Linked DNA regions of Homo sapiens: region 2 is linked to region 1. Evidence: fine-mapped expression QTL. A gene starts in region 1. The other region holds a variant in brackets. All regions are shown on one strand. Distances are between the middles of the regions.

Region 1 (4,521 bases):
GGACTGCAATGGCGTGATCTCAGCTCACTGCAGTCTCCGCCTCCCGGGTTCTGGCAATTCTCTTGCCTCAGCCTCCCAGGTAGCTGGGATTAAAGGTGTCCACCACCACATCCAGCTAATTTTTGTATTTTCAGTAGAGACGGGATTTCACCATGTTGGCCAGACTGGTCTCAAAACTCCTGACATCAGGCGATCCATCCGCCCCGGCCTTTCAAAGTGCTGGGATTACAGGCATGAGCCACTGCGCCCTGCCATCATACAGTGGCCTTCTTTGACCACCCTAAATTGCATTATTCTCCATACCTATATACGTAGTGGGAGTTCATCCTGGAGCAGTATAAGGCCCTGTTCCCCAGAAGCATGGTCCAAAGCATGGCCCATATATATATAGTATGTATGGAGAATATATATATGTATAAATAGAGACAGAGTCTCACTATGTTGCCCAGGCTGGTCTCAAACACCTGGGCTCAAGCGAACCTCCCACCTCAGCCTCCCAAAGTGCTAGGGTTACAGGTGTGTGCCACCGCACCCAGCCTCTATTACATATTTTACTTACTTCCTGTGTTATCATCTTTCTACCCGCGGGCAACCCCCCCGCCACACACACACACACGCATTACAGAATTTCCATGAAGGTAAGATTTTTTAGTTTTATTACCCTGGGCACTAGGACAGTGTCTAGCACATATTAGGCACTCAATATTTATCAAATGAGTGAACTGTATGCTTTTCTTAGAGCTCTTTAAAGCAGACATGCGGCCCGGCGCAGTGGCTCACGCCCATAATCCCAACAGTTTGGGAGGCCAAGGCGGGTGGATCACTTGAGGTCAGGAATTCGAGAACAGCCTGACCAACAAGGTGAAACCCCGTCTCTACTAACAATATTTAAAAAAATAGCCGGGCGTGGTGGCGGGCACCTGTAATCCCAGCTACTTGGGAGGCTGAGGCAGGAGAATTGCTTGAACTCGGGGGGCGGAGGTTGCAGCGAGCTGAGATTGTGCCACTGCACTCCAGCCTGGGCAACAAGAGCGAAACTCCGTCTCAAACAAAACAAAATAAAACAGACATGGGCCGGACTCCGTGGCTCATGCCTATATTCCCAGAGTTTTGGGAGGCTGAGGCAGGAGGATCACTTAAGCCTAGAAGCTGGAGGCTGCGGTGAGCCTTGATTGTGCCACTGCACTCCAGCCAGGGCAACAGAGCAAGACCCTGTCTCAAAAAACAAAACAGTCATGATGTGATTATTAAGTTATATGTGCACGTAAGCGTCTTATCTCCCCAGCCATTCCCCCGCGGAGCCTGGCACAGAGCTGGGGGAACAGGTGCGGGCGCCTAACTGGACTCAGAAGGCGCACAGGGCGCACGGGACACTCGGGCCCACACACACACATCCTCAGCCGCAGGGACAACCACGGGCCGCGTAACACCAAAGAGACGGACTGTTGGATCCACGCTCGAAAGGATCCGCGGAGCCCACACGCGCCACCCGCCACCCCGCACGCCCCCGGGATTCGGAGCTCGAGGGCGGGGCCGGGGCCTGGAACCCTCGGGCCCGGGGGAGGAGATCAGAGCCGGGAGGGCAGCGGCCCCACGCTTGGGCCAGGCCGCCGGGTGGTGGCGTCCGAGTTATCTCCGGGACCCACCACCCCTGACACTCGGGCCGCCTAGCCCCGCCGCTGCGCCTGCAGGACCGCTTCTGCGGCCCTCGGAGCTGGCCCCTGCCCCAGTCCTGGGGTGCGGCTCCTCCCGGCCCGACGGGGCGATTGATGGGGCCCGCGTGGTGACGCCAGGGGCAGTTGGGACGCGCCGGCCGCCGCGTTCCGCTCCCGACAGGGGGCGCCCGGCACCGCCTGCCCGGCTGGACCCCGCCACCCTCGCGGTTCCGGCGTCCGGTAGGATACAGCATGAGCAGTCGCAGCTCCCGCTCTTTCTGCTTCATCTTCTTCAGAATGGTCAGGAGCCCCATGGTCCCCGGAGCCCCCTCCCGGCCGCCGTTTCTTCCCAGTCCCGGGACCCCGCTCCCGGTTCCTGTTGGCTATCACGCTCGCCGACGGCATAGTCGATTGGCCGGACGCTCGTTTGGTCCCGCCCTTGCCGCACGTGACCGCGAGGTCGCCCGCGCAGCTGCTGCGAGGGTCCCTCTAGCGGCGCGGGGGGTTTCTGTGCTGCCGCCCGCCCTGACGCTGCGCCTCCCGAGGGCTGAGGCTGGGGGAGCAAGGGCGACTCCCCCACCCTTTCCCCTGCCGGACTGGGGCTCTTGGCCGGAGCGGAAACCTTGAAGTTCCTGAGTTGCATCTTGGCTGCGTCTGACCTGAGAGTCAGAACCCAGGGCCCCCAGGTACGGACGAACTCATCCTGGGGCCAGTGTAGGCCCCCGTTCCCAGCAACACAGTCCAAATCCTGCTCATCTGGGCCCTCGGCATCATCCTCTGACAGAGCGGAAAGTTGGGCCTCCCCCTACCCGGCTCCGGTGGCTCTCAGTTCAGGGCGGCGGTGCCCCCTGGAGGCCGTTCGGAAACATGCGGGGCGTCCCTGGGTTCCAATGACGGAATTGCAGTCCCGCCCCAAAGGCTGCCCCCACCCAGAGGCCCAGCGTTTCCCTGTTCAGAAGCACAGTTCCTACTTTTGCAGATGGAAAAACTGAGGCCCAGATGGTGCTTAGCACAGTGGCTGGCATGTAGTAGGTGCTCAATAAATATTTGTTGTTGAATGAATGGCTTTGTCCAAGAGTTTCATTCTTTACTTTAGCGCTCAAGAAGTCCAGAAGAAGTGAGGAAATAGGTCAAGGACCAAGCCCTTTTGTAAACTCAGGAGACAGCCTTATTGCTGCAGGTAAGTGTGGATAGGCAGCACGGAAGAGCCTCTCTCATGCTTGGGAAAGAGCTGTCAGCACCAGCTGAGGACAATAGCTAACTCCTGTGTAACTGTTTGCAACGCACTTCACGTGTTCAGCTTCATCCTCCCTGCAACCCTGAGAGGTTTATATTCTTTTCGTAGCTATGATAATGGAATCCAGAGTGTTTAAGGAGCATGGGTGAGATTCAAACTCAGGTCTAGTAAATGGTAAAGCACAATGTCTTCATGCCTCCATGAAGTTTGCCTAGAGAGAGGTCTGGAAGAAGCTGGAGCTTCCCATCTTGCAGAAAGGGGCTTGTGGTCAGAGGAGGGCTGAACAGATAGGCTGCCTGAGTGGGACCCTTCGGTCAGCACCATTTACCCTCCATCACACACACACAAGGAAGAAAGTGAGCATATCGCCTACCCAGAGGCTTCGAAATGCAGCTAAGATCAAAATGGGAAATGCTGGCCGGGCGCCATGGCTCACGCCTGTAAACCCAGCACTTTGGGAGGCCGAGGCAGGTGGATCACGAGGTCAGGAGTTCAAGACCAGCCTGGCCAACATGGTGAAACCCCGTCTCTACTAAGAATACAAAAAATTAGCTGGGCGTGGTGGCGGCACCTGTAATCCCAGCTATTCGGGAGGCTGAGGCAGAGAATTGCTTGAACCCAGGAGACGGAGGTTGCAGTGAGCCGAGATTGTGCCACTGCACTCCAGACTGGGTGACAGAGTGAGACTCCGTCTCAAAAAAAAAAAAAAAAAAAAAAAAGAAATGTCTAGAGGTAGGAGCCTGCCATCCTGCTTCTAGGAGCCTGCACCACAGACATTCTGGCACTGCACAGGAACAACGAAGTTCACTGTGGCATGGTTTGGAACAGCAAGAAATTGGAAAAAACCTAAGTGCCTCCAGTGAGGGCAGGTTACCTGAGCCGGGGTAGGTGCATGTGAATTCATGAAGCCCTTAAAACAGTGAAGTGGGCCAGGCGCAGTGGCTCATGTCTAATCCCAGCACTTTGGAAGGCAGAGGTGAGTGGATTGCTTGAGCCCAGGAGTTCAAGACCAGCCTGGCCAACTTAGGGAGACTCCCATCTCTATAAAAAATACAAAAATTAGCCAGACATGCTCACTTCAACCCAGGAGGCGAAGGTTGCAGTGAGCTGAAATTGTGCCACTGCACTCCAGCCTGGGCGAAATTGTCTGTCTCAAAAAAAAAAAAAAAAATTAGGTGTAGTGGTGCACATCGGTAGTTCCAGCTACCTAGGAGGCCAAGGTGGGAACCAGGGAGGATAAGGCTGCAGTGAGCCGTGATCATGCCACTGCACTCTAGCTTTCATGACAGAGTTAGACCGTCTCAAAGAAACAGAAAACAGTGAGGTGGAGCTGTAAGATACCAGTGTGGAAAGATGTCCGCGCCATATTAAATGAAAAACAAAAACAAAAATTCAGTCCTCTTTTAGTTTTAAAAATAATATTAACTGGAAATATGCCCACTTAGCAATGTTTTTTAATCTATGAGATGCATTCCATTAAGGAAGTGGATTGTAAAATTAGTGTCACAAATAGGTTGAACTGTATGAAATTGCCCATATTTGACAGTTTTGATACACAGATGTATTTCAAATGGTTCAACCTAGTAGCATTAACAAAAATGAAATAGAATGAACAGAACTGAAAACATT
Region 2 (4,000 bases), 63 kb after region 1:
TGAGGTCAGGAGTTTGTGACCAGCCTGGCCAACATAGTGAAACCCCATCTCTACCAAAAATACAAAAGTTAGCCAGGTGTGGTGGCAGGCACCTGTAATCCCAGCTACTTGGGAGGCTGAGGCAGGAGAATCGCTTGAACCCTGGAGGCAGAGGTTGCAGTGAGCGGAGACCAAGCCATTGCACTCCAGACTCCAGCCTGGGCAAGAAGAACAAAACTTCATCTCAAAAAAAAAGGCCGGGCGTGGTCGCTCATGCCTGTAATCCTAGCACTTTGGGAGGCCAAGGTGGGCAGATTGCCTGAGCTCAGGGATTTGAGACCTGCCTGGACAACATGGCGAAACCCCATCTCTACTAAAAATACAAAAAATTAGCTGGGCGTGGTGGTGTGTGCCTATAATCCTAGCTACTTGGGAGGTTGAGGCACAGCACTGCTTGAACCCAGGAGGTGGAGGTTGCAGTGAGCCAAGATTGTGCGGCTGCACTCCAGCCTGGGTGACACAACGAGATTCTGTCTCAAAAAAACAAAAAACAGTAACACTTCCCATAGTAATTACTCAATAAATATTAGCCAGTATAATTATAAGCTAGACACTGTGCTACTATGGAGAATACAAAGATAAACAAGACACAATATCTTTTTTTTTTTTTTTTTTTTTTGAGACAAGGTTTTGCTCTGTTGCCTAGGCTACAGGGCAGTGATGCAATCATAGCTCACTGCAGCCTCGACCTCCCAGGTTCAGGTGACCCTCCCACCTCAGCCTCACAAGTAGCTGGGACTACTGGCGTGTGCCACCACACCCAACTCATTTTTGTATTTTTTGTAGAGATGGAGTATTGCCATGTTGCCCAGGCCAGTCTTGAACTCCCGGGCTCAAGCAGTCCACCTGCCTTGGCCTCGCAGAGTGCTGGGATGACAGGCATGAGCCACTGCGCTGGCCACAGTTTCTATCTTCTTTGAACACAAACATGAGAACACTGAAGCTTAGGGTGAAATGACAAGGCTGGGATTGAAATTGAGACTTTTTTCCCCACAGAAATTTAGTAGTCTTTATGATGCCAAATTAATTAGTATAGACTAATAAGCATATAGCTTAATTAGGGACTAATCGATTAAAATTTAAAGTGAGTGAAAAAAAGGTTTGACTTAAACAAAAGCAAAATACTGTATATCAGTTAATACCAGTATTATTCATTCATTCAATGTACATTTAGTGAGGACTTGTTATGCATTATTCATGATGGTAGACACCATAGAAGGGATACTAAGATAAGTCAGGTGTATATTCTACTTCAAGTAGATCTCCCAGTAAGGAATATAAAACATTTGTATGTGGAATGTAGTAAAGACTCCAGGCTAACTACTGTGAAGTTTGATACTAACAATTATAACTTGGTAAATCAGGGAAAGATTTCTGGAGGAGATGCCTTTTGAACTATGCCTGAAAGGATAGGTCGGATTTGGACAAGTGCTGATGGGTGGAAAGGGCATTTCAGGAAGAGAAATTCCCTTTCTATGCAAAAGCATAGAAATGGAGAAGCGGGCTGGGTGCAGTGGCTCATGCCTGTAATCCCAGCACTTTGGGAGACCGAGGAGGGCAGAGCACTTGAGCCCAGGAGTTCAAGACCATCCTGGGCAACATGGTGAAACCACATCTCTACAAAAAATAAAAAAATTAGATGGGTGTGGTGGTGCACGCCTGTAGTCCCAGTTACTGGGGAGGCTGAGGTGGGAAGATCACTTGAGCCCAGGAGGCAGAGATTGCAGTGAGCAGAGATCATGCAACTGCCCTTCAGCCTGGGCCACAAAGCACGACTCTCTCAAAAAAAGAAAGAAAGAAAGAAAAAGAAATGGAGAATCAGAACACGTGTTAAAGGAACAGCAAATAGTTCAGTTTTGATAGTGTATAGGGTATGTG[A/C]GTAGCAGTGACAAATATAAACAAAGACTGGCTGAGACTCAACAGTGTTAAAGTCATTTCAAATATGTTTTTCAGGATTCTGTCCGCGTGGTCTTGGGAAACTTGGACAATCTTCAGCCCTTTGCTACAGAACACTTCATTGTATTTCCCTGTATCCTTTTTTTTTTTTTTTTTTTGAGATGGAGTCTTGCTCTGTCACCCAGGCTGGAGTGCAATGGCATGATCTTGGCTCACTGCAACCTCAGCCTCCCAGGTTCAAGCGATTCTCTTGCCTCAGCCTCTCCAGTAGCTGGGATTACAGGCACATGCCACCACACCCGGCTAATTTTGGTATTTTTAGTAGAGGCGCTATTTCACCATGTTGGCCAGGCTGGTCTTGAACTCCTGACCTCAGGTGATCCACCCGCCTCGGCCTCCCAAAGTGCTGGGATTACAGCCATGAGCCACTGCGCCCAGCCTATCCTTTCTTTTCTGGCTGGAAATGAGCTACAGCTCACATTTTAGACTCAAATGGACGTAGCAAAACCATAGGCAGTTTGGAGGGTAGGTCAGGGGAAGGAGAGAGAGTCTCATCCCTAAAATAGTACTTAGGAATGCATACTGGCATCTTTCCTTACTCCTTAGCACCATTTTCCAGATAAAAGCAAATGGGAGAGAGTTTCCCACCTGAAATTCAAACATGGGGAAATTATCTTGATCCCCTACCCATTTGTTTTTACTCTATATGTGGAGATGAAATGGTTCCATGAAAACCTGTCACCTGGTAAGTGGAATGATGTGAATGTGGATGGCAGAGAAGAAAATGGTTTAGCTGTGCCAGCTAGGTATCGCGAAAGGGGCTACCAGATTAGGCTCCAGCCATACAGTGCACAGGTCAGGATCATGTGCTCCAGGCCAGACTGACCGGTTCAAATACTGGTGGTCCTGCCACTTAATGGCTGTGTGAAGTTAGATAAATTAATCTTTCTATGCCTCCCTTGTGAAATGGTGAAGAATAATATTACTACCTATATCATTGAGTTGTTAAAAGGATTAAATAGTAGTAGATGAAAAGTACAAAGCCTGACTTAATCACTGAATGAAAGATAACTATTATATAAACCCTTCCATTAGAGAGAATTCTATGATTTTCACTTTAGAGCTATCTTAAAGGTATCTCCCAATTTTATTTTTATTTAGACAGGGTCTCACTCTGTCACCCAGGCTGGAGTACAGTGGTGTGATCATAGTTCACTGTAACCTCTAACTCCTGGGCTCAAGTGATCCTCCTGCCTCAGCTTCCCAAGTAGCTAGGACTATAGGTGTGTGCGACCATCCCCGGCTAATTTTTTTTTTTTTTTTTTTAGTAGAGACAGGGGTCTGACTATATTGCACCGTTGGGTCTCAAACTCCTGGGCTCAAGCGATCCTCCCACCTCGGCCTCCCAAAACACTGGGATTACAGGCATGAGCCACTGTGCCTAGCCCAAATTTTTATTCTCTGAAGGCCATGGGTGTTTTTGTTGATTGAGGGACAAGTAAACACCTACCCTTTTGATTTGAAAAGGGGTGCAGGCTGGGCATGGTGGCTTATGCCTGTAATCCCAGTACTTTGGGAGGCCGAGGCAAGAGGATCACTTGAGGCCAGGAGTTCAAGACCAGCCTGACCAACGTGGTGAAACCCCATTTCTACTAAAAATAAATTTAGCCAGGCGTGGTGGTGTGCGCCTCTAATCCCAGCTACTCAGGAAGCTGAAACAGAAGAATCGCTTGAACCCGGGAGGCAGAGATTGCAGTGAGCTGAGATCACGCCCCTGCACTCCAGCCTGGGCGGCAGAGCAAGATGCCATCTGAAAAAAAAAAAAAAAAAAAAAAAAAAAAAAAAAAATATATATATATATATATATATATATATATATATATATGATGTAGCCCGACATGGTGGTGGTGCATGCCTGTAGTCCCAGCTACTCTGGAGGCTGAGGGAGGAGAATTGCTTGAACCTGGGAGGCAGAGGTTCTGGTGAGCCAAGATCACACCACTGCACTTCTGCCTGGGCAACAGAGCTAGCTCTGTCTCAAAAAAGAAAGAAAAGAAAAGGGGTG

What was found. PIP is the estimated chance that this variant, and not a neighbour inherited with it, causes the effect.
Region 2: its variant is the best candidate, but not a certain one, in a credible set for the expression of ARL2 in whole blood (TOPMed, PIP 0.77).

What each region holds. Positions count from the first base shown.
Region 1 is chr11:65,011,656-65,016,176 of GRCh38, reverse strand. ARL2 (ARF like GTPase 2) reads right to left here and starts at 2,017. Exons shown (of 5, transcript NM_001667.4): 1 at 1,905-2,017. The coding sequence starts at 1,969. ARL2-SNX15 (ARL2-SNX15 readthrough (NMD candidate)) reads right to left here and starts at 2,017. Exons shown (of 11, transcript NR_037650.2): 1 at 1,905-2,017. RefSeq lists a silencer at 1,411-2,170.
Region 2 is chr11:64,948,423-64,952,422 of GRCh38, reverse strand. MAJIN (membrane anchored junction protein) reads left to right here. Exons shown (of 11, transcript NM_001037225.3): 5 at 1,993-2,068; 6 at 2,555-2,680. Among named protein-coding and RNA genes, the nearest start is that of GPHA2, 15 kb to the right of the region's middle. The variant A/C (reference allele first, on the strand shown) is at 1,918.